Homo sapiens: one gene and its partners. The protein of the gene in region 6 interacts with the protein of the main gene of each other region in a pairwise test. Each region holds a gene or a part of one and is shown on either strand. Other genes may lie near its edges. The genes, in order: STAT3, DOK5, PPIH, RIN3, ANKS1A, DOK3 and SHC3.

Region 1 (4,638 bases), on a different chromosome or scaffold from region 6:
CTGCTCCCTCAGGGTCTGTAAGAAAAGAAAAAGGCAGGTGTCCTGTGAGGCTCTCCCTAGCCCTCTCCGGCAGCCAGAGGCCCTTTGTGAAGGGGAGCTCCTCCCACATACCAAGTGTTTGAATTCTGCAGAGAGGCTGCCGTTGTTGGATTCTTCCATGTTCATCACTTTTGTGTTTGTGCCCAGAATGTTAAATTTCCGGGATCTGAATCACAGGGGAACAATCAACTATGTAGGTGACCAAGTAGCCGGAGGATGAAGTTAGGTTAAACGGAACAAAAGGAAGCCTCTAGGCTGAACTTACCCTCTGAGAGCTGCAACGTCCCCAGAGTCTCTGTAAGAACACAGACTGTTGTTAATAAAATAGGCTCTGTGTTTCTTCAAAAAGCCTACTTTGACCACCTGTTATTTACTGTCATGAAAAAACCTCTGTGCTCCTGGGCATTTCTTTAAACTATTCAGTTACAGTTGATCAGCGCAACATAACACCTCTGCGTAGCAGGCACAGTTGGTTGCCTCCCCATAGGAAGGGGAACCTATGTTTCATATTGCATATGTACTTATTAAACCTACCACCTTCGTCAACTCCCTTATTTCATTATTTTCCAGTGCATCCTCATGAAATTTCCACATAATTACATCAACTAAAAATAAGAATGCATTTTATCTTTTCTTTTTTCTTTTTTTTTTTTTGAGATAGTTTCGCTCTTGTTGCCCAGGCTGGAGTGCAATGGTGTGATCTCGGCTCACCACAACCTCCACCTCCTGAGTTCAAGTGATTCTCCTGCCTCAGCCTCCCGTGTAGCTGGGATTACGGGCATGCGCCAACACACCTGGCTAATTTTGTATTTTTAGTAGAGACAAGGTTTCTCCATGTTGGTCGGGCTGGTTTCGAACTCTCGACCTCAGGTGATCTGCCCACCTCAGCCTCCCAAAGTGCTGAGATTACAGGCGTGAGCCACCGCGCCCAGCCACATTTTCTCTTTTCTTTTCTTTTTTTTTTTTTTTGAGATGGAGTCTCTGTCGCCCAGGCTGGAGTGCAGTGGTGTGATCTTGGCTCACTGCAAACTCCACCTCCCAGGTTCATGCCATTCTCCTGCCTCAGCCTCCTGAGTAGCTGGGACTACAGGTGCCCGCCACCACGCCCAGCTAGTTTTTTTGTATTTTTAGTAGAGACGGGGTTTCACCGTGTTACCCAGGATGGTCTCGATCTCCTGACCTCGTGATCCGCCCGCCTCGGCCTCCCAAAGTGCTGGGATTACAGGCATGAGCCACCGCGCCCGGCCCACATTTTCTCTTTTCTAATGTCGTCAAAGGGTATATGTATTTTACATCCTGAAAGGTATTGTGAAATTTTGCGTATTCCATTATATGGTAAAGTGTGGAACAATTAAAAAAAAGAGATCTATTCTTTCCACATGCTATGTATGGAAAGAATATATAACGACGTTTCGGTCAACAACAAAATGCATATATGATGGTGGTCCCATAAGATTATCATGGAGCTGAAAAATTCCTACTTCATTGAGATGTGTTACAATTGCCTACGGTATTCAGCACAGTAACATACTGTACAGGTTTACAGCCTACGACCAGTAGGCTCTGCCACATAGCGTAGGTGTGCAGTAGGTTCTGCCACCCAGGTTTGTGTAAGGACTATATACTCTACAACATTTGCACAACAAAATTGCCTAATGATACATTTTGCAGAACGTATCCCAGTCGTTAATTAACACATGATCTCAGTCTTATATATAATATGCATGAATGACATGTACAAGTAAAAAACTAAACAAGGAAAAGAGGGACTGGTTGTCACAATAGCAACCACAAATCAAATCTGTACCCCCAGCTTTGTGGCTTTGTTCAGACACGTAAATGACAATGCACCCCAAGGCTTTTGAAAACTTTTGTCCACAAAATGAAGATCTCTGAATAAAGACAGAGTCTCTAGTTCAAATGATGTCTGTCAAAGTTCTCATTTTTCTATTCCTCATTTGAAAAACAGAGCTAAGATAGGAGTACTTACTTGTCAATGCACACTTTAATTTTAAGCTGATAATTCAACTCAGGGAATTTGACCAGCAACCTATTTAAAAAGAAAAAATCCAAGGAAAAAAAGTCAGTAACTCTCCCATAACCTTTTCTTGAAGAAATGTAAAATTCATAATTCTTCATTTCCAACAGGTAAATAGGCCAAGCTGTCTATAATTACAGGCTCACATCTATAATCTCAGCACTGTGGGAGGCCAAGCTGGGAGGATCCCTTGAGCCCAGGAGTTCCATAACAGTCTGGGCAACAAAGTGAGAGCCCACATCTATAAAAAATTTAAAAATTAGCGGGGTGTGGTAGCATGTACCTGTAGTCGCAGTTACTCGGGAGGCTGAGGCAAGAGGATCACTTGTGCCCAGGAGTTCAAGGCTACAGTGATCTATGATCATGCCACTGCACTCTAGCCTAGATGACAGAGCGAGATCCTATCTCTCTTTCTCTTTTTTTTTTTTTGAGACAGTTTCTCTCGTTACCCAGGCTGGAGTGCAATGGCGCAATCTCCGTTCACCGCAACCTCCGCCTCCTGGGTTCAAGTGATTCTCCTGCCTCAGCCTCTCAAGTAGCTGGGATTACAGGCGCGCGCCACCACGCTCAGCTAATTTTGTATTTTTAGTAGAGACAGAGTTTCTCCATGTTGGTCAGGATGGTCTCGAACTCCCGACCTCAGGTGATCCACCCACCTTGGCCTCCCAAAGTGCTGGGATTACAGGCGAGAGCCACCGTGCCTGGCCCCTATCTCTCTCTTTAAAAAAATTAAAATAGGGCTGGGTGCGGTGACTCACACCTGTAATCCCAGCACTTTGGGAGGCCAAGGCAGGTGGATCACAAGGTCAGGAGTTCGAGACCAGCCTGGCCAAGATGGTGAAACCCCGTCTCTACTAAAAATACAAAAATCAGCCGGGCATGGTGGCAGGTACCTGTAATCCCAGCTACTTGGGAGGCTGAGGCAGGAGAATCACTTGAACCCAGGAGGCAGAGGCTGCAGTGATCCGAGATCACACCTCAGCACTCTAGCCTGGGTGATAGAGAAAGACTCCATCTCAAAAAAAAAAAAAAAAAAAAAAAGGCCGAGCGTGGTGGCTCACATCTGTAATCCCAGCACTTTTGGAGGCCGGGGTGGGTGGATTACTGAGGTCAGGAGTTTTGAGACCAGCCTGGCCAACATGGAGAAACCCTGTCTCTACTAAAAATACAAAAATTAGCCGGGCATGGTGGAGTGTGCCGGTCCAGCTACTCAGGGAGGCTAAGGCAGGAGAATCGCTTGAACCTGGGAGGTGGAGGTTGCAGTGAGTTGAGATTGCAACACGCACTCTGGCCTGGCCGAAAGAGCGAGACTCTGTCTCAAAAAAAAAAAAATTAGCCGGGTGTGGTGGCACGCACCTCTATTCCCAGTTACTCAGGAGGCTGAGGCACAAGAATCACTTGAACCTGGGAGATGGAGGTTGCAGTGAGCTGAGATCATGCCACTGCACACCAGCCTGGGTGAGAGTGAGACCCTGTCTCAAACAAAAACAAAAGATGAGTATCACTCCTTCAAGCCAAAGGTACTGAGAAAACATCTAAGAACTAACAACTTAAAGTTGTGAGAGATTCACAAAAGGATAATCAAAGCCATATAATGAAAAATATTACAGGAACACATGCTGTGCAGCTGGCATTTTGTTCTATTAATCCTGAAACCGAACACCATACTAAGTTTCTGAGGAGGGAAATTTTGCTGCAGAAGGTCAAAACCCCAGCACACCTGTTCTGACTTGAGTGTGAAAGTAACACCTCACCCTACAGGCCCACCACCCACCTGCCCTGGGGCCTCTCAGCTTCCCCATCACTAAGCCTTACTCTTTCCCTTAAAATCCACAGGGAAGAGTAGCCTCAAAGAACAGAAAATAGATGACATTATTTTGTCCCTTGGGCAGAAGGAGAAGCTGTGGCCTGAGACTCCAGGTCTACAATCATAGGAATATGCCCAGGTACCTTCAAAAAGATGACTGCTCTTTTGCTTTTGACATCAGAATCAGAGAGCAAGCAGATAGTATGGCAACAAATTTCAACCCCGCAACAGTGTACTGCCTGTGACACCACACCTGGAAAGAATGACCCTGGCCACCAACTCTACCCTCACCCTAACAGTGTCCCTCAGTAAAATCTCTACTGGAAATGGAAGTGGCATGGCCTACCTGACTTTAGTAGTGAACTGGACGCCGGTCTTGATGACGAGGGGCCGGTCAGGATGCATGGGCATGCAGGGCTGCCGCTCCACCACAAAGGCACTGAGGAAAGAGAAGATGGGCTCACGCGCCACGGCCATGACCAGAAGTCAGCCCGCCTCTCACTCTACCACGTGAGTCTTTAGGTATTTTTTAGATGAGGGAAAGGGACAAGGATGCTAAATTACCTTTTCATTAAGTTTCTAAACAGCTCCACGATTCTCTCCTCCAGCATCGGCCGGTGCTGTACAATGGGGTCCCCTTTGTAGGAAACTTTTTGCTGCAACTCCTCCAGTTTCTTAATTTGTTGACGGGTCTGAAGTTGAGATTCTGCTAATGACGTTATCCTGCCAATAAATTAAGAAAGATGCTAATTAC
Region 2 (4,638 bases), on a different chromosome or scaffold from region 6:
CTAATGACCTATGATCCACATAGTGCTGCCCTGGAAAGATGTATGTGCCTACACTCCAAACTAAGAGAACATACAGGGGGTTCCAAAAAGTCAAGTCAAACTAAGAACATTTATACCCCAGTGCGCAGCTCAGGAGGCATATTTACATCACCAGCATCTTTGCAAGTCTGTGGCTTATTGACAGATGCCTTCCTCACATTGAGGCAGCTTCAGTGGGAAAGGATAATATGCTCACAAGATCATCCAAAATGGATTTAGCAAGCTTTGGTTATGTAAGCATGCTTTCTCTCCCTTAGCTCTGCAGAAGTTAACTAAGAACCAGGCTAACCTCCAGTAGAAGGTGAGCCTTCTTAGAAATCTATGGAGTTTGGAAGTAAAAGATGCTTTCTCTCCCTTAGCTCTGCAGAAGTTAACTAAGAACTAGGCTAACCTCCAGTAGAAGGTGAGCCTTCTTAAAAATCTATGGAGTTTGGAAGTAAAAGATCTGAGCGTGAGTCCTGAATTTATCAGCTTTGTGTCTTCGGACCTCTTGCCATTGCCCAGGTTTCATTTTAAGAGGGAAATAACTGTATCCCCTAGTTTGTATGATAATGAGTAGCTCAAATGAGGTAATGAGCCTCTTAGTACAGAGGCTTTCATATAGTAAGGGCTCAGTAAATGGTAGTGATGATTTTCAATGGCTCATACACCTGCTAGAGTAGGGTTTCTCAACCACATGATTAGACCTGATAATCCTTTGTTGTCAAGGACTATTCTGTGCCTGTAGCAGCATCTCTGGCCCTTTTATGCACTAGATGCCAGTAACACCCCCTGCCCAGGTTGTGACAATCAAAAATGTCTCCAGACATTATCAAATGTCCCTTAGGAGCAAAATCACCTCTAGCTAAGAACCACTGCTCTGGAAATCGGCACTATTGTGAGTGCAAATGTCAATTACAGTCAAATAGCCTCTTGACCTTATTTGTTTTGAGCAATTATTAAATGCTATATTGTACATATTTTGTTAGTTTTTAAAAGCCTCACCTCCACTCCTCTTCTGATAGCAACAGTACCCTCTTCCTGCCTTCAGTGAACCAACCTCATTGCATTTGTACCCTGTGAGCTTTGTGTAAAGTGCAGTGCTTGACACATAGTATATATAATGACAGCAGAGAGTAGTAATATATCTCTCTTTTACTGAGATAGTGTGGGGAGATCTCAAAGCTTCTGAAAGTCACCATATGGAGCTAGAATGAAGCTATTTTAGAAGAAACAGAACTGTCACATAAAACCTGGGATTATCATTTGGACACTGAGCCAAGCCAAGCCTGAAGCCATCTTTACTCCTCAGACTTTGAGTTTATGGAAGTCAATGAGTTTCTTTTCAGTACTAGTTTGGGTGGATACAACTGCCTACTACATTCAGGCACTATTCCAGGTGTCTTTACATGTGCCTTTATTTAATCTTCATAGCAATCTTTTGAGATAAGTAATATATGTGTTCCCAATTTACAGGTGGCAATGAAAAAAAGCTCGGTGAGTTAAGTGACATATCCACGTTCCCACAGCCAGTATGTGATAGAACTGTAATTTTACTTCATTTCCTCCAACTTCCAGTTCAGTCTGTTACACATGCCCCACTGTCAGCTTTGGTGGGGTGAAACGGAGCCACTGAGCAGGAATAACACTCAGTTCTAGTTCTAAGAGAGAGGCTGAACATGAGCAGAACTTTGTCCAAGAAAGATTCCCTGTGTTCTAGAGGATATTGTTAAGTTTTTGCAGATGCATGTTGGATATGTGAAAACTACTTGCTTAGACAGACAACTCCTGCTCACTTCTCGATGTGAGAGAAGGGGAAAATTATACTGGTTGATATAAAACTGCTTTGTTTCAACACATCCAAAAATAGCCAAGGAAAAAACTTATCTTCACTAATAAAGCAAGGCAGACATGAAACCTTCACGCTTGGTGTGGAACACGAATGATCTTATTATCCTGAGCATCTTGATGGTAAGTATAAAAATTTATCTTTATTTGAGTTTCAAGCAAAATATAAAATAGTAATTTTACCTTGCATTTAACACTATCCTGCAAGCTTATGTTCTGCTCCAAAAGTAATCATAATAGAATACCAAAGATACTATTTAGGAGAAGCCCAGCATCCTTCCAGGTCATCTACATGCATTTCTGCCTTTACCTACAACAAACCTGCAAGAAAGTTATTACTCTGATCAACTTACAAGGAAAGTTAAGAACTTTGTCCAAGGTTAGCAGCTAGCAAAAAATAGAGATTACTCAGGGTCTCTCTAAATTCTGAATCAGTACTTTGTATACTACACCAAGCTGTTTGAGAAGTAAGATGCTAAGCATACAACTCCCACACTTTCCTTTCTGACCATTCAATCTCAAGTTTGCACCAGCCCTGCAAAACATGACCAATGCATAAGAAATAATGCTATTCAAAATCAATAAATATTCTATGTCCCTACGATATTGGAGATATAACATTGAGTGGCCTGGGTTGTGAATATTATAATCATCTAACCAGTGGAGTTCTTGGATGAAATAAGCAAATGGATGGACCATAAAGGGGTCATCAAAGTCATGGGATAAAACACTTATATCTTCCAAGTCAGCATGTTGGTAAAGACCATTGAAATAGTTCTCAACTTTGTCACCCATATATCTTTTCATCCACCATTGTTTCACTTGAACTGGTTCAATATCTCCCACATCCATACCTATCTCCTCTATCCTACCGTGCACAATGTGATCAAAGTGACCTTTATAAACTTTTTTTTTTTAAATGGAGTCTCGCTGTGTCACCCAGGCTGGAGTGCAGTGGCAGGATCTCAGCTCACTGCAAGCTCCGCCTCCCGGGTTCACGCATTCTCCTGCCTCAGCCTCCCGAGTAGCTGGGACCACAGGTGCCCACTACCACGCCCGGCTAATTTTTTGTATTTTTAGTAGAGATGGGGTTTCACCGTGTTAGCCAGGATGGTCTCGATCTCCTGACCTCGTGATCTGCCCGCCTTGGCCTCCCAAAGTGCTGGGATTACAGGCATGAGCCACCACGCCCAGCCCTTTATAAACTATTAACACAATTACATCACATACACACACACCCCATATACACACATCTCATACACACACAGAGACTCAAACATACCAGCCTCCAAGTATCTATGGTTTCCTACAGCACTTAGGAGAAATATCGAGGTCTTTTAAGTAATCACCTAAATCCTTAGCAGTTCCGTTAGATTTCAATATGAATAAATTAAACGTTTGCAGGATATGTACAGTGTTCATTTTATACCTGGAAAATTAATAAGATAACATGTTTTCAAGTTTAAAATAGATATGAGATACTAATAAAGTTTACTAAGGTTTTGATCCTCAAACATTACCATAAAAAGCTATACTTTTTTTCTACTACTATTTCCTGTAAATGGTAAATAAAAAAAGATTTTAAAATATTAATAATTGAATAAGTGCTGCCCAAAACAGATCCAAAGAGTCTTGATCAATGCAGAATTCTCTTACACATCAATATGAAATATGAATGGAGATGATATGAGAGGTACAGTCATAGAAAAGTCTATTTATAAAACATTTTCAATACTTAGATTTCACTGGTTATCGTTAATGCATAAATAATTTCTGAGACCCAAAGGGAAAAATATACCAACCTTACCAAAAAAAATTATTCATTTTCTATAGGGATTTTCTTTTGTCATTGTTGTTTTCTTTTGAGACAAGGTCCACTCTGTCGCCCCAGGCTGGAGTGTATTGGCAAGATCATAGCTCACTGTAGCCTCGACCTCCCAGGCTCAAGTGATCCTCCCACCTCAGTCTCTGGAGTAGCTGAGACCACAGGTGTGTGCCACTATGCCTGGCTAATTTTTTTTTCATTTAATTTGCTTTTATTTTTTGTACAATATACCCAATGATGAATAGGTATTCTTATTTTCTTTTTTAAAAAACTTTTGTTTTAAGTTCATGGGTACCTGTGCAGGATGTACAGGTTTGTTACATAGGTAAATTTGTGTCGTGGTGACTTATTGTACAGATTGTTTCATCATGCAGGTATTAAGCTTAGTATCCATTATTTATTTTTCCTGATCCTCTCCCTTCCCCATCCTCCACCCTCAGATAGGCCCCATATGTGTTGTTCCCTTCTATGTATCCATATGTTCTCATGATTTAACTCCCACTTATAAGTGAGAACATGCAGTATTTAGTTTTCTGTTCCTATATTGGTTTGCTAAGGAATTAGGCCTCCAGCTCCATCCATGTCCCTGCAAAGGACGTGATTCATTCTTTTTTATGGCTGCATAGTGTTCCATGGTATATATGTACTACATTTTCTTTATCCAGTCTATCATCGATGAGCATTTGGGTTGATTCCATGTCTTTGTTATTGTGAATAGTGCTTTGATGAACATACATGTGCATGTGTTTTTATAACAGAAACATTTTGGAGAGATGGGGTCTCCCTGTGTTTCCCAGCCTGCTCTCAAATTCCTGGGCTCAAGCAATCCTCCTGTGTTGGCCTCCCGAAGTGCTTGGATTACAGGCATAAGCCACCGTCCTGGCCTGGGATTTTCTTATAAGAAGAATAAATAAGTAATTCTCACAAAATAAGAACATTGCTCTCAA
Region 3 (4,638 bases), on a different chromosome or scaffold from region 6:
TTTTCAAGACATATTTTTTAGAACATGAAAAATATAGTATGATTTCATTTGGGAAAAAGAAAACCTCCCAAAATTAGATGGGCAAGGCAAAGGCCCTGATGGACATACATCAAACTAATAAGGAAGTGACCTTTGGAAAGGGGAGTGGAATTGCAGGTGGGTATTGTCAAGAGGGGCTTTCACTTTATCTGTTTGGTGTGAAAGTTTTCACAATGAGAGTGTATTATGTTACTTGTGTAAACCAAATGAAATGAAATATGGGAACCTTGATTGGATCACCTTTTTTTAAGCTACAAAAGTTACTTTTGGGACAATTGGGGAGGTTTGAAAATGTACTATATATTAGATAATATTGTGGTTACGTAGGATGTTCTTATTTTTAGGAGTTCCTTGCTGAAATACTTAGGGGTAAAGTGTCAAGAAGTCTGCAACTTTCAAATGGGAAAGAGAAGAAGAAAGGGTAAAGGAAGGAAGATGGGAAGAAAGGAAGGAAAGGATGGAGGGAGGGAAGAGGAGCAGGAGGGAGGAGGAGAGGCAATGGAAATGGGTGAGGAGGCAAGAAGGGAAAGAAAAAAACAAATGTCAAGGCAAAGCAATAAAACAAGAATGTTAATCATTGGTGAATCTAAGTGAAGATATATTGGTGTTCAAGGTATTATCTTCTAACTTTTTTGCAGGTTTGAAAATAAAAAAAAAAGAAAAACAAAACATCACTACCCCTCACCTGGCTGGAAGTGATGGATTTCTCCCTTGTACTCTTCTCATACTTGGCAATGTCACTCATATTACTAGTGATCACCTCTGGGAATGTCTTACTTTCCATGAGCTCCTGAAAGGAGACATCTTTCAATTCTTTGTCCCCCTCTCTGCAGCTAGCATGCTGCCCAGCGCAGAGCAGGCAGTGGTAATTACGGGTAAGAAATGAGTCCATGTAGGCTGGAAGATGCAAGGCATTCACCTATGAGGCCAGCGAATATGAAGTCGAGGCCTGGAATTGCAGTATCAGTTCTGATGAGAGGCATGACAGGTGTGTCTCCTGGCTGCCTGGCCTGGTCCCAGCAGAGAGTTACTCAGGCCTGGAGCCAGGTCTTTCTAGGGGGACTACTGAATGGAACTGTAGTCTGAGAGTGCTGTTACAAACTGCCTGAGTAGTTTTCACATTGATACTTTGTACATTACAAAGTGATAGAAAAGTAAAGTGCTCCTACAACCCTTTCTCTTTTTATTTTTACAGTGACTCTGAGAGATAGGTATTACAGTATTTCCATTTGACAGATGAGGAAATGTGCTCAGAGAAGGAAAGTGACTACTCCAAGGCCATACACGGAGGAACTGGGCTCAATCTCATGTCTTCAAGACTAAAGTTCTTTCCACTAGACCATGCTGCCTTCTCTGAGGTCTGATTCCTAACCTAATAGGAGAAAGACACACTTACCTGATTCAGTCTTTGTCTGGACTACATCTCCCCACACTGCGAGATCACCACAGGTAGCTTGGGCTTATTGTTGGGGCCTGTGGGAACATTCTAGGAAAAAAAGCACAATGGAGATTCATCCACTCAGGCACTTCCTCGTTCCCTTATCAAACTTTTACTGATGCCTGCCAGCCCTGTGCTAAGGACTCAGCACTCAGAAACAGTCCATGTCCTGGCAGACAGGTAAAGCATATAATACCTATCAAAGAGAAAATGCAAAACACTTAGAAAATATCAAACTTATGATTATATAAGAAAAAGTTATAAGAGAGAATTGGATAAGGGTTAGATAGGCAACTAAATTGGGGCTTAAAGAGGTCAGGGAAGGATTCACAAAAGAGGGGTATTTGAACTGTGCCTAGAAGGATGAATGGGATTCCATCAGGAGGGAAGGAAAGAAGAGCATTCCGGCTAGAGGAAACTGTGTGAGCAAAGGCTCAGGGGCAGGAAAGAGCAAGCAGCAGGGACATGCATGGCAGATTTAGAGAAGAGCTAGTAGCCTGATGTGACTGGAACATGGAAGAGGCAATGGCAGAAGAAGGGGCCATGGAGAGGTAGACAGGGACTAATCATGAAGGACCTTGAACGCAATGCTGAGGAGTAGAATTTTATCAAGTAGGCAACAGGATCATCAGAGGCCAAACCTCAGTGTTGGCCAGACAGGCTAACTTAGGTGGTTCTCTTCCCTTTTCCTGGGGCAATGAAGACAGCCTAACAAACTGGAGCTCATTCCCCCTTCTCTAGCTCCTGCACGCTAGTCAGACAGTACCAGACCACAATGGCAGAGAAACAGAAAAATCAAAGCAGTACTTACCTCAATCTTTCTCATCACTAGAAGTCCATCGATGATTTTTCCTGTAGGAAGAGCATGAGCTGGACTTTATTCTTGTTTACATAGCATTTTCCAGCTTCCAAAGCCCATTCTTAGCTATTTTCTCATTAAACCCTCATACTAACTTTAGGAAATTAAGATGCGGTAGAGGTGAAATGACTTGCTCAAGGTCATAGGTAATAAGTAGAGTTAGGGCTCAAACTTATACCTGAGTGACTCCAAAGTCTCACCGTATCATGCTGCCTCTATGGCATTTCTTTGGTGCTAGCAACTGGGTTTTCTCCCTAAGTGGTTCCATACTATATCAAATGGTCCTTTTGTCCTTCCCTCTAGTTCTCTAGCCACACATGTTCCCCACCTCCCCACCATTTCTGTTTTCTCTATTACCACCTAAGCAGTTACACAGGTTGAGCTTTCTTGGTAAGAGTTTGAGAACTAACTCCTCTGGAGGTTCCATCCAGGGTGAATGGGGCCTGGACCATGAGACAGGAGTAGGACTTACCAAACACCACATGCTTCCCATCCAGCCAATCGCACTTAGAGCAGGTGATAAAGAACTGACAGCCATTTGTACTTGGACCACTGTTCGCCTGATGGAAACCAAATATACCTGCAGTAAGTTTCCCCGGCCATGTTAGCTGAAGGGCAAGATTTCCAAAAGAGCTTGTAACACTGATTCCTCTATGGTTTTTTTCAGTAAATCTAACTTAGCACCTATTATGAGCCAGGGCCTAAGCTAGGATCCAAGGATACAGAGATGAACAGGATATGGCTCACTGCAGCCTCAAACTCCTGGGCTCAAGCAATCCTCCCCACCTCAGCCTCCCTAGTAGATGGGACTACAGGTGTGTGTCACCACACCTGGCTAATTTTTTTTTTCTTTTTTAAGTAGAGACTAAGTCTCACTATGTTGCCCAGATTGTTCAAACTCCTGACCTCAACCTCAAGCAATCCTCTTGCTTCGGCCTCCCCAAAGTGCTGGGATTACAGGTGTGAGCCACCACACCCAGCTATGAATATGTCTTGAAAGCACAACTGTTTACATTCTGAGCAGTAGGGCTGAATGCCCAGACACAAATCCTGGTTCAGATTTTAGTTCCCCAGCCTGCTAGCCTGCTAGTGGGCCTTACCTACTGGTTTTCTTTTCTTTCTTTTCTTTGTTTTAAGATGGAGTTTCGCTCTTGTTGCCCAGGCTGGAGTGCAGTGGGGCAATCTCAGCTCACTGCAACTTCCCCGTCCTGGGTTCAAGCGATTCTCCTGCCTCAGCCTCCCGAGTAGATGGGATTACAGGCACCCACCACCACACCTGGCTAATTTTTTGTATTTTTAGTAGAGATGGGGTTTCACCATGTTGGCCAGGCTGGTCTCGAACTGCTGACCTCAGGTTATCCACCTGCCTCAGCCTCCCAAAGTGCTGGGATTACAGGCGTGAGCCAGCATACCTACTGGTTTTCTCAGTCAAACCAGACTAAGAAAGGAGGTGGTAAAGGTGAGTCCTGGGCCAAGCAAGAGAAGGAAAGCATTTGCTTCCATCCCAAGAGACAGCACTGGGCCTCAAGAGGGGCCCAGGAACCAGCTGGCTATAACCCAAAACCTTGATTGGACCTCACTTACCATGGAAAGCAGGCCTGGAGCTGAGTGTCTAAGTTTAAAATTTTCATCTGCAAATGGCCCCCGGTAAATACTGGCGACTCCAGTACCATCTCCCTGAGCAGAGAGAAGGGAAGTATTAGTGACTTGGAGTGTTGGGTCCCTGGAAACCGGAGGAAGAACACTGTCGCACCTAAAGCATGACATCTTTAAAGTCTACTCTTACTCTTGTTGGTCATCTTGGAAGCTGCACCTATTTGACCCCACCCTGCAATCAGATCAAGCCTTATATAAGGTACCTACAGCCCACAAAGACTGGCTGGAGCATTTTATAGACTGGATAAAAGAGGTCACAGCTGGGCCTCTAGAACGATCAATTAAGATGCAGACAAAGTAGGGAACAGCAACAAGGTGATCACATACTCAATCCTTGCCATTCCTGAAGACTCTCATGCCTTCAGTCACATAAAAGTACCCACTTAAGTGACTACCACCCCATTCCCCTAAACTATCTAAGAGGGTGGGTGAGCTCTTGGCAGTCTGTATGTACAACATGATACCACCCTCCTGGTCATAGTTGATTGATCTAGGGAAGGATGCCTAACTCACTCTGGGCCAACTAGAGTTCCTTCTCTGGGAATCTGGAGGTGGGATAGATGCTCTCTTTGAGGCTAAATTTGTAACATGTAAACCTGAAAGCTGGATGTGACTACCATTTGCAAGCTGGGCTAGAGAACAGAGA
Region 4 (3,500 bases), on a different chromosome or scaffold from region 6:
AAGCACCATTACCCCATAGGATGTGGCCTGAGTGTGTGCCGTCACGTCACTTACAGACAACAGGCCTTGACCACAACCACGGCCTAGGCCATTTCTGCTAAAAAGAGAACCGACATTTCATTGCAGGCTCGTTCATTCCATTAAACATGTACTGGTTGAGGTGGGGGCACCCCTGGGTATTACTGAGGTCAAATTGGGGCAGGGGGTTCTGCAGCCATGTTCAAAGCTTCTGACTATCAGCACTGTTTCTGCTTTGGGGGCAGTCCCTCCAACCCCTACCCCTGTGGAGAGGAAACATGCCAAGGCTGCACAGAGGCCCTACTGGCAGGAGAGTAGAGGAGAGGACACAGTGGTGGCTTCCAGACTCTTGTATAAACGCTGACACCACACAGATAGTAATGCCTTCCCACTGCCCTGTGGACGCCAGGCTGAGGGAAGGCCTCCCATGTACCCGTCACTCCTCTCTTCTCCATCAAGGCCACGCTGGCAGGAGGGACGGACTGGCTTCGCTGTACTACACTGTGCGTGGGGAGGGAGGCACACAGCGTCACTGCCGCCCCCACCTGCACAGGGACGCGTTGGCTATCTCTGGGCAGCCCTGGGCAGGGAGACCGAGGCCTGGCAGAGAGCGCCATCCCTCAGCCTGGACACCTGTCTCATCCTCTGTTGGTAGGGCCGCCCCTCAGACTCCAACCCTGACAGGGGCAGGCTTCACAGACGGTCTCTAAACAGCCAGGCCCCGTATCCCCGGCTGTCTGCGATCTCCTCAGCACCTCCACAGCTCCCACAGCTGATGGCCAGGCAGGCTCCACCTTACCAGCCCAGCCACCCTCGAGAGGCTACTCCAGCCACACCAGGGCTCCCCGCCTGAGAAACCTTCCCAGCTCACTGTCCACTTGGCAAGGAGCCATGGGTCCTGCCCCAAAGTGGGCTCCCAAAACCAAATGTACTTTTTTCAAGACTAGGTTTTTCAAAATAAAACCACAGCAATAACAAAAAGAAAAAGAAAAACCATTTCCTTCCAGGTAGCTTGGTCAGGGTAATGAGCCAAAAGTCTCCTGGATGGGTCTTTGTTTCTTGTGAAAGTGCCTGCATGTTCTAGACTGTTCCATGGGCCACTTCAGCTCCAATGGGCACTTTGATCCCCTGAATGCTATTACTCTAGGACACCAGCTTCCGTTGCCTGCTAGCTGGTAACTCAGGGAGCCGACTGTCAGAGCGAGCAGGGACCTTGAGAACATGGAGCTCTTTTCTCAGATGGGAAAATGAGGTCCAGAGGGAAGGGAGCAGCTTCCTAGAATAAAATCCTAAAATACTAGAGGAGACAGGACCCCAGATTCTCTAGCCCTACTGATGACCTACAACATGCAAACACCCACGCCTCTTCCAAACCAGCAAAGGACAGTTCTGCCTAAGAAAAGACACGTTGGCAGCCATGGCTGACACTGATGCTGACACACACACACACACACACACACACACACACACACAGGCCACCCTTATTTTCCCAGTTTCTCAGTGGTCCAGAGACCCGCATTTGGGACCCACTGATGCCCCAGGGCTCCCCCAAGTCTGTACACCAAGCTATTCTCCATTCTTCCGGCTGAGACACAGTATCCAGGGCTGGCCTCTCCTTCCCCCATCCTTTCTCCCTGACAAGTATCAGGAGCACAGCTGGGGAGGATAAAATTAGGGGAGTTGGGGCCAAGCAGGGTCCCTACTCAATTGCCTGGGTGGCCTCTGCTTTCCAGACTTGGAGAGGAGTGTGGTAGCCTTGTGGTGGGGGTCACCAGCTGCTGCGGAATGGAGTTGGGCTCCTAGCCCCCCAAGCCCTGGGTCTCCCCCTACTTAGCCCCGCCCTGTGATCTAGGCCACCTTGTAAACACCTCCAGAAATTCAGGGGCTCCAGGGACACAAAAGAAAAGGCTGTGCAGCCTTCAATCAGCGTATCATTGGCCTCAAGCATTTATGGAGTGCCAAGTGCATGTAGGACACAAGGATATGGAACTAAAAGACCTGACCCCTTTCTTTGGAAGTTTGTAACTGAAGTAGGAAGTCATGATATTAAAGAGGTTTTGGCTTCTTTCAAATTGCTAGGCAAACAAGCGGTTCATGTGAAAAAGGCTATGAATATTCAAAAAGGAGGAATCTCTGTGAGCTGGCATGGATAGAAGGCTACATGGAAGAGGTGAGCCCTGTAAAAAGGGCAGAAAGAACCTCATGGGCAAAGGTACAAGACCACAGACAAGCTCTGCACGTTGGAGAGGACAGAAGATGTGAAGCTGTACACTGGCTTCCAGCAGGGCTGGGCTGGGGTACAGAGGGCAGGACTTTCTTGAGGGACCTTTTAAATAGGACAGCATGTCACCTGAGGGCAATTAGGGAGCTGTTGGGGGACACACCACTTTCCCTGCCTGGCCTGAGAGTCCCTCTAGCTTGATTGGCAACAACCAAACCACCAGAAGGGCCCACTGTGGGGTAGGACGGAGGGGAGATCCAGTTTGGAAGTCATTAAAGTTGTGATTTTCATCTTTGGCTCCAATCTTGGGGGAAAACATCCATGTTTCAGACACTCCTGGTGGGCAGGAGAAATTCGACTTCCTGGTTCTCAGAATAAATGCTGGTTCGGGGCAATAGTTGTATCAACAGGACATTCTGGAGTTGGCCATCAGAGCAGCACCAATCAATTACCCAATAACAAGATGATAACGCATGGCCCCCCACTCTCTTCTAAAGGTTACTCCCTAATAGGATCAGATAGCTGGGGGCCAACAGGAAGTTAAGGGGCCTTGGGTGTCATTTACCCCATGTTAAGGCTCTTTCTGAACACACAGATGCCCCCAATCCCCTAGGTGACCCAGGCCCCAAGGATGGGGTTCTGTGGGCAGCCCCCTTTATACTTTTGCCCCTCTTCTGTAATTCTCTCCCCAGACAAAATTTGTCTTCCGTTTCCTCAACCCCTGTTATCTGATAACAGTCGCTTTGTAAAGCAATGTGTGTCATGTACCTCTGGGTTTTGAAGGGTGCACTCCCTGCCCCACAAGCCCCTCCACCACACTTTCCCACCTCCCGAACCTTTGCTCAGGCACTCCCCTCCTCCGAGCTGCCCACCCAATGGTGCTCACTCATCACTGCCTAGATGACACAGCTTGCCATGTCTTGCCATGACAGGTGGAATCTTCCAGGGGGTTACAGAGACAGAGTTTGTGGCCATCTGTCACCCATTCTTTCCGTCTCTGCTCTGGCAAGGGACTGGGAGGCACCACAGACCACCTCAGACTCCTGTCTCCAAAATGGAGCTCCAGGGAGGCCTAAGGGGATGGTGAAGGGTCTGGGTGTCCTCCTTCAAATATCATGCCTCTCTCTGCTTCCAGCTGAGATCAATTCCTGGTAGGTTTCCAGTTTTGATTTCTGTATCTCCTGGGTTAAAATGCGGGTGCCCTGTGGCATTTCAAGCTTTTCACACTTGCAGCTTCAGTGAAGATCACAGATCAGGGACC
Region 5 (3,500 bases), on a different chromosome or scaffold from region 6:
CTCTGGTTAAAGCTAGTAAAAGATTTCTGAGCAAATGAGACCATGCCTAGGTCAGTATGTCCTCCCTTTTTAGATGTGGACATAGTGAAGGGTAGGTTACCTCTGCTCCCAACCCTCTCTCCCCTAAAGACCCTGGATTATTTAATGAGAGCTGTGGAATCATAGCTTCAGATTTGGCCTTTGTATTAGCGGCCATATTCTACCCCTATTTGTACTGCCAACTGTAACTTGCCTGAAGTAAAGCTGGCAGAAATAGGAGCTTACAGTTGCAGTGGAATAATTGTTCCAGACCACACATGTGTTTGTGTATTCACCTGTTTGTGTTCCCCCATCCCGTATTCCACAAAGGCTTTGTGTTTATTCTTAAGCTAAAAAATGCCCTCTTCTCTTACCCATCCCTTTTCCTCTACACAGCTTGGGCTTAGGTTTTAACTTCTTAAAGCCCTTCCTGATGACCCTAATACACACAGATCTCTCAAGCTTCCATGTCTTTGGAGCACGTCATCTGTAGTGTACTTTGCTTGCCTAGCTTTCACAGTTGATCGCTTTGGCCTGTCAGTATAATGTTTACATATAGCAACCCTCACCGATTGATGCTATACCTGAGAATCAGAAAGTCAGCAAAGAAGACTTCTACTAGAAAAACATGTTGTTACAAACTTTGTGTTCTTCTAGCCTTCCTTATTTACTGGATATTTATTCAGGAACAGTATAGCATTATACTGTCCACTTTTTCTTAGCATTAAGCATGTTATAGCATTAAGACCACTTGTTTTTGTGTCAGACTTCCTGGATTCACATTCCACTGCCACCACTGACTAGCTGCTTGACATTATTCAAGTTAACCACTTTGATACTCAATTTCTGCATCTGTAAAATGGGGATAATACTATCTGCCTTATAGGTATCATCTTAGATAATGTGTGTACGGGACTTACCATAATTCCTGGCATATTCTAAGTCCTCAGTCTTAGTCATCCTCAGTTCAGCACATACGGTTTTGCTGTGTTGCACCTGTTCTGTGCAAAGTACCATGCCAGACACATTATTTATTTTTATTTTTGTAGAGATCGTGTCCCACTATGTTGCCCAGGCTAGTCTCAAACTCCTGGGCTCAAACGATCTTCCTGCCTCAGCCTCCCAAAGTGCTGGGATTATAGGTGTGAGCCACAGTGCCCTGCCTGACACATTTTAAATGGTGTTTTTTCATGCTTGGGGATCTGTTTTCCAAGCATGGCAGACTAGAAAGAGTAAATAAGGGAGAGGAATCATTCATATACCCAATGTTTACCCATGATATACTTTGTGCCAGGCCAAGTGATTGCTAGATGCACTGCAAAATATGTCTGAGACCTGGGACATTGTACGTGGTCTGTCAGAATTAGCCCCTCTCTTCATACATGTTCTGTTCCCTTACAGAGTTTATAGTAGTATGATACGTCTGTGTAACAGGCCAACAAAAAGGAGACAGAGAAAGCACACAAATTTAGCATAATTTATCCTACCTCCCGGCTGTTTGAAGCTATTAACATAGGTGTATATAGCCCTATATACCTATGTAAGCCCCAAGCATCAGTTTACTGTATCTTTGTGCTATGATTTATGTTTATTATGACTGTTAGCCATCAAATAAAGATTAAATTATGTTCAATATAGCTTGTTAGTGAAAGAAGAAAAAAAATATAGTTTTCTATCCAAAATGGTTTAAATATAATTTTTTTACTTAAAAGGATAAGCAATAGATTATCTAGAAAGCACAGTTATCCAGAATGTCTAGGCTTACAGAGGCTCTGGATTGCATGGATTATACTTTATATAATACTAACTCATTTTCTGATTGTTTAATGGATGCATGCCTTCGGTCTATACCTTGGGAGCTTGGGATAGGCATTCTATCAAACTTCTTAACTTACAGTATTTTTTAGTTCTGGGCACGTAGCGGGCACTCAGATTCTCATGTAACAAGACAGTTTGCTATGTTTAGAGTTATAGTGAAATACTGATTTCCAAGAAAGAAACTCCTGTATAAGAATATTGTAAGATTTGGTTAAAAGTAAATTCTATCAACTAAAAGGCCAAAAAGATCTGAGAAAAGGAAATGTTAAAACCAATCATGGCCAGGCACAGTGGCTCACCTCTGTAATACCAACACTTTGGGAGGCTGAGGCAGCTGGATCACTTGAGCCCAGGAGTTTGAAACCAGCCTGGGCAACATGCTGAAATCCCATCTCTACGAAAAATACAAACATTAGCCAGGCGTGATGGTGTGCACCTGTAGTCCCAGCTACTCGGGAGGCTGATGTGGGAGGATTGCTTGAGTCTGGGAGGTTGAGGCTGCAGTGAGCCAAGATTGTTCCACTGCATTTCAGCCTGGGTGACAGAGCTAGACCACGTCCTCACACCACCACCCCCCAAAAAAAGAAGAAAAAAGAAAACCAGCCACAATAGCTTCAAACTGTAAATTGAGTTATGAACTAAATACTGATGTATATGAATGGAAAAGTAAAGTGAAATGTACTTCTTAGGGTTCAGAAGCACAGAGAAACTAAACCGAAGATCACAGTTGAGGAGATTATGTTATGGTTTAGGAATATTTTATGCTTAATTTCTCAAGCATGAGAAGGGTGAATAAGAAAAGAGGAAGCCAAGGAGACTTGCTGGAGAATCTGAAAATTTATAGATAGTAGCAATGAATGTGGCTTTAAACTAATTTTTATGCTGCCATTTCATTGGGGGAATAAAAGAAAAAGAAAACTATTCCAAAACAGATATGAATTTCCCAAGATGTGAAAATGTTCTGAAATAAGGAATGAAGCATGAAAAATTTTGAAAAATGGACCTCATTTGGAGGATAATAACAGATTCTCCCAAATGTCAGAAAATATGGCAAGTAATTCATTGTTGTAAAGAAAGCTTCCTAATATTTATTTAAGGACTTTGGTTTTTTTTTTTTTTTAATTAAAAAAAAAAATTTAAGAGACAGGAGTCTTGCTAATGTTGTCCAGGCTGACCTTAAACTCCTGGGCTCAATTGATCCTCCTGCCTCATCCTCCTGAGCTATTGGGACTGCAGGCACATGCCACCATGCCAGGCTAGACTTCTTCCTCTTGTTAGTGTTATTATTTTTTAAACAGTGATTAGCATAACCATTCTATTGAAATGGTCCTTTATTCATTCCCAGAATGGATCTGAACCTTGGAGATTATAATGGCGTGACAGCCTTTTCTCATGCTGACCTTTTTACTTTTGCCCACTACTGTGCCAGATTTCTTTTGAAAGTGCCTATTTTGAGCAAAATGATTTTAACATCTTAAGGAAGAGGGCAACACTGACCATGTAAGGATTGTAGAATGGAAGGGCCTGGAAACAGATCTTGTGGATTTGAATTTGTCTGATCTAAGTTCCTGCTCTTCTAAGAGAATGCAAAAACAAGATAAAATGCAACTATCCACTAGCATAGCAGTTTTCTGGGTCTTCCACTAAACTATCTTAATTAATTA
Region 6 (3,850 bases):
TGTGGAGGGAGATGGGGGAATGGGGACTCTCTGCGGTGCTCTTTCCAGGGTGTGTTCTTTGTTAGGACAATGAAGACACACAGCTAATGTGTCTTATCTAACATTTCCCCAGGGCCAGCACACAGTGGATGTGAATGAACACACGAAGAAAGGAAGGATTGACAAAGTGAAACAGCAAATGAGCAAAGGAAGAGGCGGCAGCCTGGGGGTCCTGGCAGTCCTCCAGCAGAGAGGACCCCAGGCTCCCATTCCTTGGGCTGGTGCAAGGCTCTGGTCTGTGTCCCCTGGGGAGCCTCCCAGCACAGGCAGCCCCTGCGTAGCAACTGGACCTGGACAAGGACCCAGCGCCCTCTGGTGGCCGAGACTCCTGAGGCTCCAGGCCAGGCCTCTAGCGTCCTGGTGGTTTCCAAGGACTTTCTTTCCCACAGTCCCCTTGGAATATCACAGAAATCCCTAGGAAACAAAGCAGCTCAGATTTGTAATGAAGGAAAGGATGCCATGCTGGGTCCCCAGAGTCCTGGGTTCTGGTTCTAGCCATGCCCCTGACTCTCTGGGTGACCTTCAGCGTGTCCTGGGATTTGAGCTGCCAAGGGCTGGGCTTGGGCTTGCCACTGTAGGGAGTGGGGGTGCCTGCAGCAGCACCTCGACTGCCCGCCTCTTGGCCTCAGCTTGCTCTAAGACCTTACCCATCAGGAAGTGCTTGCATGAATAAGTGAGCCAAAATCTTCCTCCCTATGGCTCTAGCATCCCTCCAGGCTTTGCATTCTGTGTCCACACACATCCTGGAAGAACACCAGAGTCTCCATTCCCCCAACCCCCTTTCACCCATGGGATCTGGAGATGTCTTTTCCACATCCAGATGTCTCGTGTGCAGTGGGATTCCTAAATCTGGAGCTCAGGGGGAGGTGTGCACTGAAGACAGACCTTCGGGGTCATTAGCACCTAGAGGGTCTGTGACACCTGGAGAATGACTGGCTTGCTGAGGCCAGTGGTTCCCAGCCTAGGCTGCATACTACAATCATCCGGAAATCCAGTGAGCGTGGATGCCCAGAACCCACCTACCAGACTGATGAAATCAGAGCCCCTGCGTGTGGGCCCAGGCATGGGCATTTGATTTTTAAAATTTTTTATTTTCTTGGTAGATCACTCACAGAACATGCATGGACATTTTTACAGGCTTTCAGGAGATTCTTTGTGTAGCAGGGTTGAGCTACACTACATCTGAGCCTAGGACCCTGGGAAGAACTCAGAGAAGGCAGCAGTAGAGGCTGGGAAGGAGATTGTTATGAGGTAGGAGGAATAGCAAGTAACGGGGGTGTTTCAAGAACCAGAGCCGAGTGCTGCTGAGAAGTCAAAGTCCTTGTTGCTTTTGTTTTGGAGAATAAGGTTGGTGACTCTAATAAAAGCCACATAATGGCATCATGGGGATGAAGGAGAGTTAATTGAGGGGAGAATGGGGGTGAGAAAGTGGAAATGAAAGTAATCAACAACTCTTTTGAACAGTTTTTGCTGTGAAGAGGAACAGAGAAACAGAGGTGGCCGAAGAGGAATGTGAGGTCAAGGGAAGGTTTAAAATGTGAAATTACAGAGCATGTTTGCGTGTGGCTGGAAAAGCTGCTGGTAGGATGAATGGGCGCAGGAGAGAGTGGGGACAGCTCAATTTTCCAAGCTCTGAGGTGAAAGGAGCCGGGATCAGAGCACAGCTGGGGACAGACACTGTTTCTACTGTAGGGGTAGGAAGAAGACAGATGGATGCCAGTACACTTGCAGATACGGTGGGAGAGCCCGACCTGTTTCCCCAATATGCCTGTGAGGAGACATTGGGTGGGGATAGACAGGAGGTTCTGGGGAGGAGAAAAGCTGCCCTACTAGGGAACAGGGTCTCTTGTGGCAGGGAGTGCCTGCCTTGCACTGTTAAGAAGGATGCAGGCAGTCTGCTTAAATGGATTTCTCTGGCTGTGGGCAGCTGTGTGCAGGCACTGAGGAGGTCTGGGCTCGCCCAAGGCCGGGGACTTTGCCAGACCAGTAAGATGAAACGAGAGAGAACAGGGGGAAGGGACTATGGAGAACAAAGAGGGGATGGTGGGCAGAGGCCTCGAAGAGCCAGAAAAGGGTCCCTGCAGGTCGACATGCCTAGGCAGGGGCGGTACTGGCCGCACTAAAGGAAGTGAGCTGGAAGGAGGTGGCGGCCAGAGGATGAGGCTTGGACAGGAGAGAGCAAAAATTGTGTGTCCGTCATGAAAATGAGGTTCAGGATGTGCCAAGGGTGTGTGCAGCTGAGGTGGAGTTGCGGTGAGGGGCTGGGCAGTCAGAGCCCTGGAGGCATGACGCTTGCGTGCGTGGCTGGCTCCTAGGATGGCGCCAGGAGCAGGAGCAGAGGAGGGAACGCAGCATGGAAGTCTTCAGGAAACTTCTCTCCCCCTGGAATGTCGGCTCCCGGAGAACAGGACCAAGGCTGTCCTGAACACGGCTGTGTCCCCCAGCGCCTGGCACTGAGTAGGCACGCAGCAAACTCTCATCAAGGATTATGCCTGATACGTCATCGGTTCTCTCTCCTTTACAGATGAGGAGACTGACGCCTGGGGTTCCCAGAAGTATCTGCAAATTGTTGGAGTTTCAGCAGGGAACAAGTGTTTTGGACGAGGGTGTCTCTGAAATCCCTTCCACCTGCACCCCGCCCCCACTGCCTCCTCCCAGCTCGGGCCTCCGGGTCTCCAGTTGGGCCCTCATGTTGCTCCTTCCTGAGTCTGACAAGTAAGCCTCACAGCTCCCTCCGCCTGCCTCTTCGTGTCACTCGGCCGTGCAGAGCAACATGGAGTCCTAATGATTTCCATCCCGTCTGTCTGCTGCAGTGGGTTTGAGCCCACGGGTGGCAGGTAAGGCCCAGGTCACCTGTGCCCCTGGAACCGGCACAGGGTGCTTGTGTTGGCCGCAATGAACGTGGGCAGGGGCGTGTGCCGTGAGTGCCCCTGCCGGGAGCTGCTCTGAGCTTTATTATCTGTGAGTCTGCACACTATTCATGAGGAGGGCAGGGCAGGGCTGAGGTCCTCCACAGGCGGCCTGCCTTGTTCCTGCAGGCCAGGGTGGACACAGGCGTGTGTCTGCATGGGCCCAATGTTTGCCCACCAGCCCACCCTCCTGTCCCAGGGGGAGCACCTCTCCCCTCTGGCCACCACTCTGCTGGGCGTTCAGGGCCGGTCACAAGGGGCTGGGCCCTTCCTCCGCTCACGACTCAGCAGGGTCACCAGCTTGGCCTTGAAACCTGCCTGAGGGTCAGGGCGGCCTGTGCCCTCCACCTGATCCAGCTCCAGCAGCCGCCGGTACTGGGCCTCCAGGGTACTGTCGTTGGCCGGGCCGGGCCAGCTCAAGTCCTGGCCGTTGTGGTAGATGGGACTGGTTGTGGGGCTGCGGCTGCCGGGGCCCTCGTGCGGCTCAGGTTCCCCACCGTGCAGCGTGGGGCTGGCCTCCAGCACACACAGGTTCTCATAGAGGTGCTCATTGCCTGGGGGCCCACTGGCACGCTTGCACACTGAAGCGTAGAGCCCGGACGCCAGATCGTTGGGCTCCGGGCCTAGCAGTAGCGGCAGGCTCTGGGGTCCGGGCTCGGCCAGGTGCATTTTCCTGGACGTGGGTGGCTCAGGTCCTGGTGGCATCTCCCGAAGCTCTCCGGGGGTGTCCAGGGAGGGCAGAGAGGTGGCCCGTGGCAGGGGGCAGGGCTGGGGCCTGGTCAGCTCTGGCAGCCGCTCCCGCTGGCGGGCGATGGCCCCGGCCACAGCCCTGCACAGGTCAGGGGCACAGGGGGTGCTGAAGGCAAAGAGGCCCTCACCCGAGTGGCAGCGACGGCCGGCCT
Region 7 (4,638 bases), on a different chromosome or scaffold from region 6:
AGGACCCTGCAACAAGAAAGTGAGCCCCTTTTCTTTTACGATGGTGACACTATTCAAGCCACCCAGCCTTTCACAAAGAAGCTCTTCTGCCTGCAAATGGGAAACCTCCTCCTTCGGATTCCTATGGGTGATATTCTCCTCTTCTGAGCTTGTCACCACACACTGCTGTGACCCAGCTAGGATGTTTTCCAGTCCTTCATATCAGCATGGGGTCTGCCAGCCAATGTCAGGGTGGACACCTTGATGGCTCCACTGTGATGGCCTTAGCAAAAATTTTGGCCCTTGCTGCCCCAAGACCGCAGGAGCCTGGCAGGCAGAACATGCCTGACCTCCTCTCCTTGACAAATGCTCCAAGATCAAATAACTGAGCAGAAGGACCACAAGCCTTATATTAATTGCTCTTGTTTTCTTTTTAAATATAAGCAAATGCTTTATAAATTAACTTCATTCAAGCAATACAATAGAAGCTCTGTACCTCCTAAGGAACTGAGAGAGACTCCTTCCTTATAAAATAGGGCTGCAGTTACTGCCCCTGGGTCTGTGAAGGAAGCCCAGGGTGGGTGTGCAAGTGAAGAGCCCCCTCTGCTGAGGCAGTGATGCTGCCTCGATGTGACTTCACAGCTAGCCAATGGGTGTGCTGAGGCTAGGCCAAGGCTGTTCTGTCACCGAGACCTAGTGTGAAAGACCTAGTGCCTTGACAGGACTTCACAGCTAGCCAGTGGGTGTGCTGAGGCTGGGCCCGGGCTGTTCTGTCACCCAGACCCTGGGTGAAAGTGACACCCAGACCTAGTTGCCGGAGAACGCCTGTTCAGATCCTTCTCGGAGTCTTTTTGTGTGTGCGCCCTGTCTCCAATCTTCTTACGTAAACATGTTCGCAAGAACACCCTGTGGTATTCACATTTCTGGAAAGAGGGTGTCTTTCATACCCTATGGGCGGTGGTGTGTTGAAGCCAGCTCAATCCAGCTGGCAGGAGTTGGTTCAGGGCTTTTTAAAAAGCGTTCCCAAGAGCCTGTGGCTGGACATTTGCCAGCACACCACTGTCTCCCAGGCTGTAGGTGTGAGAATGAAGTGTCGTGCTAACATTCCCTCGCTGGGGAGCACCACCTGCAACATCATGGACTGTGTTTCTACTCTCCTATTTCTCAACATGCTTTCTACATTGAAGAGTCTAGTCAGATTACGCATCCTTGCTTAGTGACAGCTATTTGCAGTTTACACCTTTGTGTACATTGCAAACGAATCAGCCTTTAGAAAAGAATTTCATTAAAAAATTTTAAAAGGAGAAGATCAAGAGCCCAAATGCATAATCTTCCTGACTGCCCTTTCCCACCATAGATGACAACAGGTGCTGAGCCGGGGCAGGAGGACACGTGCCATCGTGATACCTGGAGTTCACTTCCATTAGGGACAGTATCTGCCAGCAAATTAATAAGTGACATTCTAATTTGTTATGTGAGAAAAGATATTTATTTATTTTTTTTTTTTTTTTTGAGGCAGGGTCTCATTCTGTCACCCAGGCTGGAATGCAAGTGGCATGATCTCGGCTCACTGCAACCTCCACCTCCCAGGTTCAAGCAATTCTCCTGCCTCAGCCTCCCGAGTAGCTAGGATTACAGGTGCCCACCACCATGCACAGCTAATTTTTTGTATTTTTAGTAGAGACGAGGTTTCACCATGTTGGCCAGGCTGGCATCGAACTCCTGACCTCAGATGATCCACCCGCCTCGGCTTCCCAAAGTGCTGGAATTACAGGCGTGAGCCACCATGCCCTGCCTATTTATTGTTTTCAAAGAAGAGCTGGAAATTTATTGAGAGCTCTGAGTCTCAAGTTCCAGGCCAGGAGTTCATTCTGCGACATCATCTGTTCTCGATCTGGCTGGAATAACTTGAATATATCAAAAACAAGGCCTATTTTAAAATAAACCTGATATATTTTACAATAAAGTAAATATCTAAGGGAAATAATGTGTCTCCTTTATTCTTTAGCAGTTATTATATGTCTATGCACACACATGTTATGGAAATGCATTTTAAATGTGTGTAGAACAAGGATAAATAGCCCATAATGAAAATGTCCCTCTGGCAAAGTTATGACTCTGATTTGCTATTTCCAGCCTATTCTGAGGCAGAACATGTGGTGGCTTCTGCCAGGCCTTATGTTTTATTGACTGGGCCAGCACTGTGGGTCTTCCTGCATCTGGGGCAGGCGAGACGAAATTCTCTTACACAGAGGACATTTTAAAAATGTATTGTCATTTGCTTCCTGGCATAAATAGCTATAATGAAGGAATAAGCCTCAACATTAAACCAATAATGTTTAAATTTAGATACATAGAAGCATCAGTTGCATCCATCCCCTTCAGATCTTATAGACTTAGTAGCCAGGATCCCAGAGCTAGTGAAAGAGTTATAAATGTTTTTGAGAAGGGAAAAAGGTTAAAATTAAAAGACATTCTTAAAGGATTAGATTGAGATATGAATACATTCATACATATTTGTATGTGTATATATAACTGTCTAGAGAATAAAGACTTATGTGAGCAATTAGCAGTTACTTCTTAGATAGTTGTATCTAAATTATGATGGCTGTATCTAAATATATTTGAATTATTTGCAGATATCTGACTTATAGACAGTTATATCGACATTAGTTTTAATGTGTGATGTAGGTGCATATTATGATTGTAAGATGCAGAAGTGTTCTCTGAGAGTATCCAGGGCCTGTGAGAGACGTATATCCCTGGTGCCACCTCTGCCTCAATCCCCAGCTTAGAGTAGGGGGCTTCACATCCCCCCTGAAGCTGACCCTGAGTAAAGGGAAGGAGAACGAGACAAGGAAGGAAAGGCAACAATTTGTTGTAGGAGTCACGGGGGCTCAACCTCCACCTTAGAGTTGCCTCACCAGTTCCCATAGGAAACTGGGGTGAAGTATGCCTGAGATGTCAACTTCTCAGCACCCCTGGGCATGGAAGCTCTCCCAGCATGGAGGTGTACAGTCTCAAGGGCATGAGGCAGTGACTGCAGACGGGGTGTGAATGGTCCTGGAGCTGCAGGGAGGCACTATCTGATTGGTGCCAGGAGATGTCTGCAACACTGTTGCTTTTTTTTTTTTTTTTTTGAGATGGGGTTTTGCTGTTGTTGCCCAGGCTGGAGCGCAATGGCATCATCTTGGCTCACTGCAACCTCCACCTCCTGGGATCAAGTGATTCTCCTGCCTCAGCCTCCTGAGTAGCTGGGATTACAGGCACCCGCCACCACACCCGGCAAATTTTTTTATTTAGTAGAGTTGGGGTTTCACCATGTTAGGCTGGTCTCGAACTTCTGACCTCAGGTGATTGTCCCGCCTCAGCTTCCCAAAGTGCTGGGATTACAGGCGTGTGCCACCGCGCCTGACCACACCGTTGCTTCTATTTCTATAGTCTAGTCAGGATTCTATAGCAACACACACAGCACATATATCCAGGGGTCACTCTGTCAGTCCACAGAAAATAGGCGACCCAGTGGTGAGCATGTTACTTTTGAAAAGTGTCTTTTGTGTTTCTCACCCATCTCACCTTGCCTCTCACCTTGCCTTAAAGGTGTTTGCTGCCAGTCTTCGCCAAAAGTGTCTCCTAAGTGTCTTCCCTGGTAATAAGTCTGCTCTTTTCCTGCAAACTATAGACACATGTAAATACACAGAATGAAAAAATTATTTTCTTCTCATTTCACCACTTTTGAAAGCCACAAGACAGTCGGCGAGTTGATCCTTAAGGTGGTTCGCATCCTCTGTTACACCCAATTTTCCCTTCATGCCTCATGGTTGGCATTAAGATTTGGGAAATAAGTTTGTGTGGGTGTGAGGAAAAGGCTGCATCTCCATCAAAACTACACATGCCCCCCCGCTTGTTTTCATTACCCCCCCCACCCCTCCCGAAGTGTGACTGTAAATCAAGCTCTTCCATATGTATGTCCTAAAATAAATTTCAATTACAGAGTATCTATGTGTCAGAACACACTTCCCACATAACACATACGCCCATGATCGTTCACACTTGGTCAAGTCCACTCTGTAAACCAGGAAATTTCCTTCAAAAAATCAGGAAATTCCCTCTCAGTGTCAGATCCCTGAGCTCAACGTTATTTTGCCATTTTTAGTGGTGTCATTATCATTCACATAAGGTAGTAACGTTAAAAAATTTCCTATAACAAAACAGAAATATCATAACTCTAGAAAGCAATTGCCTTACTAGAATTTTGAGTTGGACATAAAACAAGGGAATGAATAAAATAGAAAACTCATAAAATTCTCATCATTTTAAGCGTCTATATTCACTCCTTTTCAGAGAACCCAATGCCTCCCAAGCCTTTTTAAAATCTTAAATTCTCTCTTTCCCTCACTGAGATCACAGTATGATGGAATATGTCTGAGGGTACAGAGGACACCCCCAGACTCATATCCCAGGAATCACCACACAGTTCCAAAGCATTTGGCCAATGCTTTATGATGTTAACCCAAAGCCTCTCTTCATCTGCATGCCTCATGAAATCCAGTGAGAGAAAGCTCATGATTTACTGTGTCAAAAATGAAACAGAACATCAGCCTGAAATAAAACCAAAGAAAACAAAAGGAAATAAAGTAGAGTTAGCCTCCATTCCTT

What was found.
Region 1: the proteins of DOK3 (region 6) and STAT3 interact in a two-hybrid assay, tested with the Homo sapiens proteins (one large-scale study listed by BioGRID and IntAct).
Region 2: the proteins of DOK3 (region 6) and DOK5 interact in a two-hybrid assay, tested with the Homo sapiens proteins (one large-scale study listed by BioGRID and IntAct).
Region 3: the proteins of DOK3 (region 6) and PPIH interact in binary tests that used the Homo sapiens proteins (3 or more experiments, as listed by UniProt).
Region 4: the proteins of DOK3 (region 6) and RIN3 interact in a two-hybrid assay, tested with the Homo sapiens proteins (one large-scale study listed by BioGRID and IntAct).
Region 5: the proteins of DOK3 (region 6) and ANKS1A interact in a two-hybrid assay, tested with the Homo sapiens proteins (2 studies listed by BioGRID and IntAct).
Region 7: the proteins of DOK3 (region 6) and SHC3 interact in binary tests that used the Homo sapiens proteins (3 or more experiments, as listed by UniProt).

The regions. Positions count from the first base shown.
Region 1 is NC_000017.11:42,329,443-42,334,080, forward strand, and holds part of STAT3 (signal transducer and activator of transcription 3), read right to left. Parts: intron 4,608-4,638; coding exon 4,449-4,607; intron 4,324-4,448; coding exon 4,231-4,323; intron 2,090-4,230; coding exon 2,030-2,089; intron 350-2,029; coding exon of another isoform or gene 335-349; coding exon 305-334; intron 206-304; coding exon 112-205; intron 16-111; coding exon 1-15. UniProt on the Homo sapiens protein: Signal transducer and transcription activator that mediates cellular responses to interleukins, KITLG/SCF, LEP and other growth factors. Once activated, recruits coactivators, such as NCOA1 or MED1, to the promoter region of the target gene.
Region 2 is NC_000020.11:54,593,484-54,598,121, reverse strand, and holds part of DOK5 (docking protein 5), read right to left. Parts: intron 1-4,638.
Region 3 is NC_000001.11:42,664,238-42,668,875, reverse strand, and holds part of PPIH (peptidyl-prolyl cis-trans isomerase H), read right to left. Parts: intron 4,014-4,638; coding exon 3,921-4,013; intron 2,897-3,920; coding exon 2,809-2,896; intron 2,330-2,808; coding exon 2,289-2,329; intron 1,526-2,288; coding exon 1,457-1,525; 3' UTR 1,436-1,456; intron 830-1,435; exon of another isoform or gene 725-829; intron 1-724. UniProt on the Homo sapiens protein: PPIase that catalyzes the cis-trans isomerization of proline imidic peptide bonds in oligopeptides and may therefore assist protein folding. Participates in pre-mRNA splicing.
Region 4 is NC_000014.9:92,516,781-92,520,280, reverse strand, and holds part of RIN3 (ras and Rab interactor 3), read right to left. Parts: intron 1-3,500. UniProt on the Homo sapiens protein: Ras effector protein that functions as a guanine nucleotide exchange (GEF) for RAB5B and RAB31, by exchanging bound GDP for free GTP. Required for normal RAB31 function.
Region 5 is NC_000006.12:34,892,255-34,895,754, forward strand, and holds part of ANKS1A (ankyrin repeat and SAM domain-containing protein 1A), read left to right. Parts: intron 1-3,500. UniProt on the Homo sapiens protein: Regulator of different signaling pathways. Regulates EPHA8 receptor tyrosine kinase signaling to control cell migration and neurite retraction.
Region 6 is NC_000005.10:177,500,795-177,504,644, forward strand, and holds the end of DOK3 (docking protein 3), read right to left. Parts: coding exon 3,189-3,850; 3' UTR 2,599-3,188; coding exon of another isoform or gene 2,251-2,598; 3' UTR 1,110-2,250; downstream 1-1,109. UniProt on the Homo sapiens protein: DOK proteins are enzymatically inert adaptor or scaffolding proteins. They provide a docking platform for the assembly of multimolecular signaling complexes. DOK3 is a negative regulator of JNK signaling in B-cells through interaction with INPP5D/SHIP1.
Region 7 is NC_000009.12:89,042,179-89,046,816, forward strand, and holds part of SHC3 (SHC-transforming protein 3), read right to left. Parts: intron 3,656-4,638; coding exon 3,568-3,655; intron 7-3,567; coding exon 1-6. UniProt on the Homo sapiens protein: Signaling adapter that couples activated growth factor receptors to signaling pathway in neurons. Involved in the signal transduction pathways of neurotrophin-activated Trk receptors in cortical neurons.